2 separate regions of the Homo sapiens genome follow, and region 1 is linked to region 2. Evidence: fine-mapped expression QTL. A gene starts in region 2. The other region holds a variant in brackets. All regions are shown on one strand. Distances are between the middles of the regions. Region 1 overlaps ENDOV (endonuclease V). Region 2 holds the start of RNF213-AS1 (RNF213 antisense RNA 1).

Region 1 (2,907 bases), 22 kb before region 2:
GAGTCAGAGTCGAGACGTCACTGCACTTAGGGCCCCCCTGCACGCCCCTCTGCCTGCCGCCGGGGAGTAGGGTGGGGACAGGGCAGGGGGGCACATGCCAACCCTGCAGACCCCCACCCTGCAGGGGAAGGGCGTGTGACGCAGGGATGGGAAGTTGGGGCTCCCCCACCTACCAGGTGCCCAGGCCCACCCCTGCCCAGCCCCTGGCCCGTGAACCTGCTCCCCCAATTCTAGCCCCCCTTGACCCTCACACCCTGTTTCCCCTGCTTCAATCCCCTGCACTCTACTCCCCCAAACCCGCCCCCCTCCCCAGAGCAGCCTTGGGGAAAGGGGCTGGGCCAGCTCAGGGCTGCCACTGCACATCCCCACGGTGGGCTGGCATCTCTGCAAGATGCTTTTGACTGAAGAAAAAAAATCAAGCTTTTGAAGAATTCAAGTTAGTTTTATTCAAAGGTCTTACTGAGAATCCTAGACCCAGGTCCCAGCCCGGGAGCAGCCTTAGAGAGCTCCTGTTTGACTGCCCGGCTCAGTGTCTCGGCCCACTGCTTGGTTACGGGGGCCGGGGCTCAGGACCTGCACAGTCACATCCATCCAGCTGGCTCCGAAGTTACATTACAGCAGAATCACATCAAGGTTTGGGCATAAGAGCACTTCTGGTTACAGATTACAGAAGCATAATCGCTAACCTTGGCCAACATTTTCTCATGTGCACGAAAAGCCAAGGACCAGGGTCCTTCACCTTTTAAGGAATACAGTGACTCAGGCAACAGACGCGGGGCCGTGTGTTCTTTCCTGTTTTGTTTTCAAAGCGTCTCTCTGGAGAGCTGCAGTGTCACAGAGTAAGGGCCCACAGAAATGAGCACACACTTAGGTTTGCTGCTGACACGCCCTGCCTCTCCTCATGTGGTTCATGTGGCCATCAGCCGGGGCTGAAGACCCCTGGCACACACCTGCACCCCAAACGGACTACAGGTGCCGCTTTCATTTCAACTCTCACCCATTTAGGGTTCGGAGCCCCACACCCACTTAACCCCAAGCCCAGTGGCAAAGCTTCCTGAGAGGCCCGGAACCGCCAGCCATGAGTTCTACACCACCCCCACTGTCCTCCTGAAACCCTGCTCCCCCAAAGACAGGCCTTACTGAGGACTTGGTGGGGTGCTGGTCAGGAACTGCCCGGTCTTTGGGGAGGGGGTGCTGGCTGTCCGCCTGGGGAGAGCCTGGGAAAGGCATGCAGGCAGATGTGGTTGGAGCTCCGACTCTCTGACTCTTGGGCTTAGGTGAGTCCTCAGCAGGTGCCCTGCACTCCTGGTCCCCTTTCCCAGCCAGATCACTGCTCAGCATCTGCAGAGTCAAGGAGGACTCTCCCAAAACCATGCACGGCCAGATGGCCCAAGTTAAAAGAAGATGCCAGTGACTAAAAGCAGGAGTGAAGGCAGGGACGTTCTCAGAGACCTCACACACATCAATAAAATCCCGTGAACGACGGTATGCCAACAGATGAGATAACATGGACGAAACGGAAAAACTCCAAGAAACACACAAGCTAGCAACTGACTCAAGGATGGACAATCCGAACGATCTATAACAAATACATAGATTGAATCGAATCAAAATCCTCCCAAAGACCCAAGACCAGATAGGCTTACTGGCAAATTCTACCAAAGGTTCTAGCAAGAATTAACACCAATCTCTCTCTTCCAAAAAAAACGGAGGAGAGAACATTTCCTAACCCAATCTATGAGGCTAATATTATCCTGATATCAAAACCAAAGGAAGACATCATAAGAAAACACCAGACCAATATCCCTTATAAATACAGATGTAAAAATCC[G/A]CACCAAAATACAAGCAAATCACATTCAGCAGCAGAGTAAATGGATTATACACCATGACCGAGTTAGATGTATTCCACAAATGGAAACTGGCTCAACATATGAAAATCAATCAATGTAACACCTCATATTCACAGAAGAACACAGGATCTTTTCAATAGAGGCCAGAAAAGCATTTGACAAAATCCAGTACCCTTTAAGGATAAAAACACTTAACAAATTAGGACTAGAAGGGACCGTCTTCAGCTGGATGAAGAGCATCCTTGAAAATCTAACAGCTCACATCACATCTAGTGGTGAAAGACTGCAAACGTTCCCTTAAGATCAGGAACAAGACAAGGACGTGTGCTCTCACCACCACGTTCGATCAGGAACGAGACGAGGACGTGTGCTCTCACCACCGCGTTCGATCAGGAACGAGACGAGGATGTGTGCTCTCACCACCGCGTTCGATCAGGAACGAGACGAGGACGTGTGCTCTCACCACCGCGTTCGATCAGGAATGAGACGAGGACGTGTGCTCTCACCACCACGTTCAACAAAGTGCTAGACGTTCCAGCCAGAGCAATGAGGCAAGAAAAAGAAATAAAAGGCGTTCAGAGTGGAAAGGAGGAAGTGGAAATGGGCCAGGTGCAGTGGCTCGCGCCTGTAATCTCAGCACTTGGGGAGGCCGAGGTGGGAGGAAAGCTTGAGCCCAGGAGTTGGAGACCAGCCTGGGTAACATGGTGAGACCCTGTCTTTACAAAAAAATCTTGAAAAACTAGGCCGGACACAATGGCTCACGCCTGTAATCCCAGCACTTTGGGAGGCTGAGGCAGGTGGATCACGAGGTCAGGAGATCGAGACCATCCTGGCTAACACGGTGAAACCCCGTCTCTACTGAAAAAAAAAAAAAAATTAGCTGGGCGTGGTGGCGGGCGCCTGTAGTCCCAGCTACTCAGGAGGCTGAGGCAGGAGAATGGCGTGAACCCGGGAGGCGGAGCTTGCAGTGAGCCGAGATCACGCCACCGCACACCAGCCTGGGCGACACAGCGAGACTCTGTCTCAAAAAAAAAAATTAGCCAGGCATGGTGGCACA
Region 2 (2,907 bases):
CCCAGGAGGATGCAGATCTCCAGCTTGGGCAACTGGGAGCGTGGTGGACAGGTCACTGAGATGAAGAACCCAAGATAACAATCAGACTTGAAGATAAAGCTCATGAGCTGATTCTTAATAGTCACAGAATTCCCTTAATTTTTGCCTTTTTTTCCCTTCCAAGACTCCCCAGACTTTTTTTTTTTTTTTTTTTTTTTGAGATGGAGTTTCGCTCTTGTTGCCGAGGCTGGAGTGCAATGGCGTGATGTTGGCTCACCGCAACCTCCGCCTCCCGGGTTCAAGCGATTCTCCCGCCTCAGCCTTCCGAGTAGCTGGGATTACAGGTATATGCCACCACACCCGTCTAATTTTGTATTTTTAGTAGAGACCGGGTTTCTCCATGTTGGTCAGGCTGGTCTCGAACTCCCGACCTCAGGTGATTCCCCCGCCTCAGCCTCCCAAAGTGCTGGGATTGCAGGCGTGAGCCACCGCGCCCGGCCAACTCCCCAGACTATTAATGACATCCTACAAAACGAGAAGCCGGGTTCTACGCTTGCACTGCTCCCTGTCCCGGAGACCGCACGCCCGAGCCCACCGAGGGGCCCGCCTCGAGCTCGGCGTCCTCCCAGGTTACCTCGAGCTCAGGGAAGCTGAGCACCACCAGGGAAGCACAAGCGCGGACACTGTCCCCTTTCACGAAGGACACGTCAACGCCCCCGACCCTCTGCAGACCCGAGAAGGCGGGGTCTCGCTGCCACGCCTCGGTGTCCCGGTCTACGACGTGGGCCTTCAGCCGAGCTTGCTCCCTAGGAGGACAGAAGCGTCAAACTTGGTCGGGGTCACACCTCAGACTCTGCCTCCTCCACCCGCGCGGCTGCAGCGGACAGAGCGCCTCTGCCGGGTCTTCTCCCGCTTCAAGGGAAAGCAAGGGACATACCGCCGAGGCCACAGTCCCTAGGAGCCCAGGCGGCGGAGACCCGCGCAAGCGCAGGCCAGACAAACTGGCCGGAAGCGAGAACCGCGCCCACCCCGCGGACTACAATTCCTGAGATCCCTCCGCTTCCGCGCCGGAAACTGGGCTTTGCTTTGGAGTCTCGGGCGGTGGCAGCTCCGATTCCACAGCCTGAAGACTATGAGCTCGGAGGGTCCGCGAAGGGCCGCCCGGCCTCGGCCCCCGCCTCCTGCGCGTCGCCTGACAGCATTACCGTTTCCACAGTGACAGCGTTTCCTCCGGCGGCCCTCCCGCCGCCTCCAGGGCCATGGCTTCGTCCCGGGCACCCCTTCCGCACGTCACTTCCGGAAGCGACTCGCTCTGACGCCGTCCGCCCTCGTTGCCATGGAGACGCTTGCGCTTTCCCGGGCCGCACTTCCCACCCGGGTCTTCAGAAGCCCGTGGCCGCTGGGTGAGCCCCTGCGTGAACGCACACGCACGCACACGGCTTCAGGTTGCCCCGCGGCGCCGCGCGCGATATCGGCTCGGATCCCGGGAGGCCGTCCGCCCCTTTTTCAGCGGATAGCTGAGGCCAGGTAAGTGACCGCGCGAGGACCCGGGAACTCCGTGACGCCCGTCCCGCCTCTGCTGTCCCCGCCGCAAGCGCTGCGCTCTGCACGGCGAGAGGGGCCTCTTGCCCTGTTGAGAGCCGGCGGGCACGGCACTTCTGCGCTTGGAAAAGGGTGGTCCAGCACTGCAGGTCCCACTCCTTGGCCCGGTCAGCGTCCGCCTTTGCTGAACCCCGAAAGGATTCACCAGGTCCAGGACAGCCCGGCAGTTGCCTCAGGAGCACTTACTGAGCGCCTGTCGTTGACGCCCCCACCTCGATGGCAGCTCAGGGGTGCCCTCAAGCTTTTGAGGGCAGGTGTCGTGTATTTAAATTCTTCACAGTTTAGCGGGCTGGACTCACGGGGGTGCTGCAGACTTGGACGGGGTTTCATCTGGGTCGGACCTTGCTGGGCAGAAAGCTTCTCCTACCAGACAAAGTACGGCGACCTTGGGGGGTCTTGGTTCTTACCTCGTGTTCCTCATTGAATGAGTGTTGGTTCAGTGCTCTCGCTGTGCCAGGTGTTGTGCGAAGTACTGTGAGGGAGAATATGTATTTATTTGTGGGGAGCCGACTTTAAACCGGTGGTTGGGAAAGGCCTGAGAGGCGATATTGAAGACACCTGAAGGGTGAGTGAAAGAGCACGGCGGGTGAGTGGAGCAGCTTTCTCGTGCAGGTCCCGGGGTGGGAAAGAGGTTGGTGTATTTGAAGCACTGAAAGGCAGCCACTGAAGCTGAAGTGTAGCAGTTTAACCCATGGTTTTATATTCTCCTGGGAGGATTCAGAAGGGTGTATGTGTGTATGTATATATAATAGCCTGAATATAAACGTCAAGGGTGTTAGGTTTTGAAGGGAAGGTGAAGGTTAAAGAATGACGCACAGTGAGATTGCCGGCGCGCGGGCGGCTCTACAGCAACACAGGTGTATTGCAAACACCTGTCGGGGGCCAGCTTAATGCCAGAGCCCACCAGCGATTACAGGCTGGGGTACTCATAGGCCTGGGCAGGAGGGATCTAGGCAGTATGGCTTGCTGTCCGGGAAGATGTTAACGTGTTCCCAGGATGAGGTGGTTCCGGCAGAATGTGGTGTTCCTGGCGCTTTGTCCCAGCAGAATATGTTAAGAGGCAGGCTGTTTCTCATGGCTCGAACCCCCGTGGAATGTTTCACTTTGACCAAGGTCTACAAAATGGAAAGGGGCTTACAAAATGACGCAGTTTGGACTAACAAAGGGGAAAATACAGAGGATGAAATTAGACTCTAGAGGTTGAGGCTCAGGAAAGGCTTCATACAGCTTTGGGAACTGACAAGGCTTTGAAAGCAGGGTCAGTTTTCAGCGAATGAGCGTCACCCACTGCACCCTGCGCACCCTGCTCCCCTGCTGCGGTGTCTT

The links.
Region 1: its variant is fine-mapped to the expression of RNF213-AS1 in unexposed skin (GTEx, PIP above 0.99).

Annotation. Positions count from the first base shown.
Region 1 is chr17:80,435,601-80,438,507 of GRCh38, reverse strand. ENDOV (endonuclease V) reads right to left here. Exons shown (of 10, transcript NM_173627.5): 10 at 422-2,375. The coding sequence ends at 2,365. Among named protein-coding and RNA genes, the nearest start is that of MIR4730, 18 kb to the right of the region's middle. The variant G/A (reference allele first, on the strand shown) is at 1,832.
Region 2 is chr17:80,413,528-80,416,434 of GRCh38, reverse strand. RNF213-AS1 (RNF213 antisense RNA 1) reads left to right here and starts at 1,267. Exons shown (of 2, transcript NR_029376.1): 1 at 1,267-1,506. ENDOV (endonuclease V) reads right to left here and starts at 1,268. Exons shown (of 10, transcript NM_173627.5): 1 at 1,185-1,268; 2 at 614-785. The coding sequence starts at 1,240. RefSeq lists an enhancer at 746-835.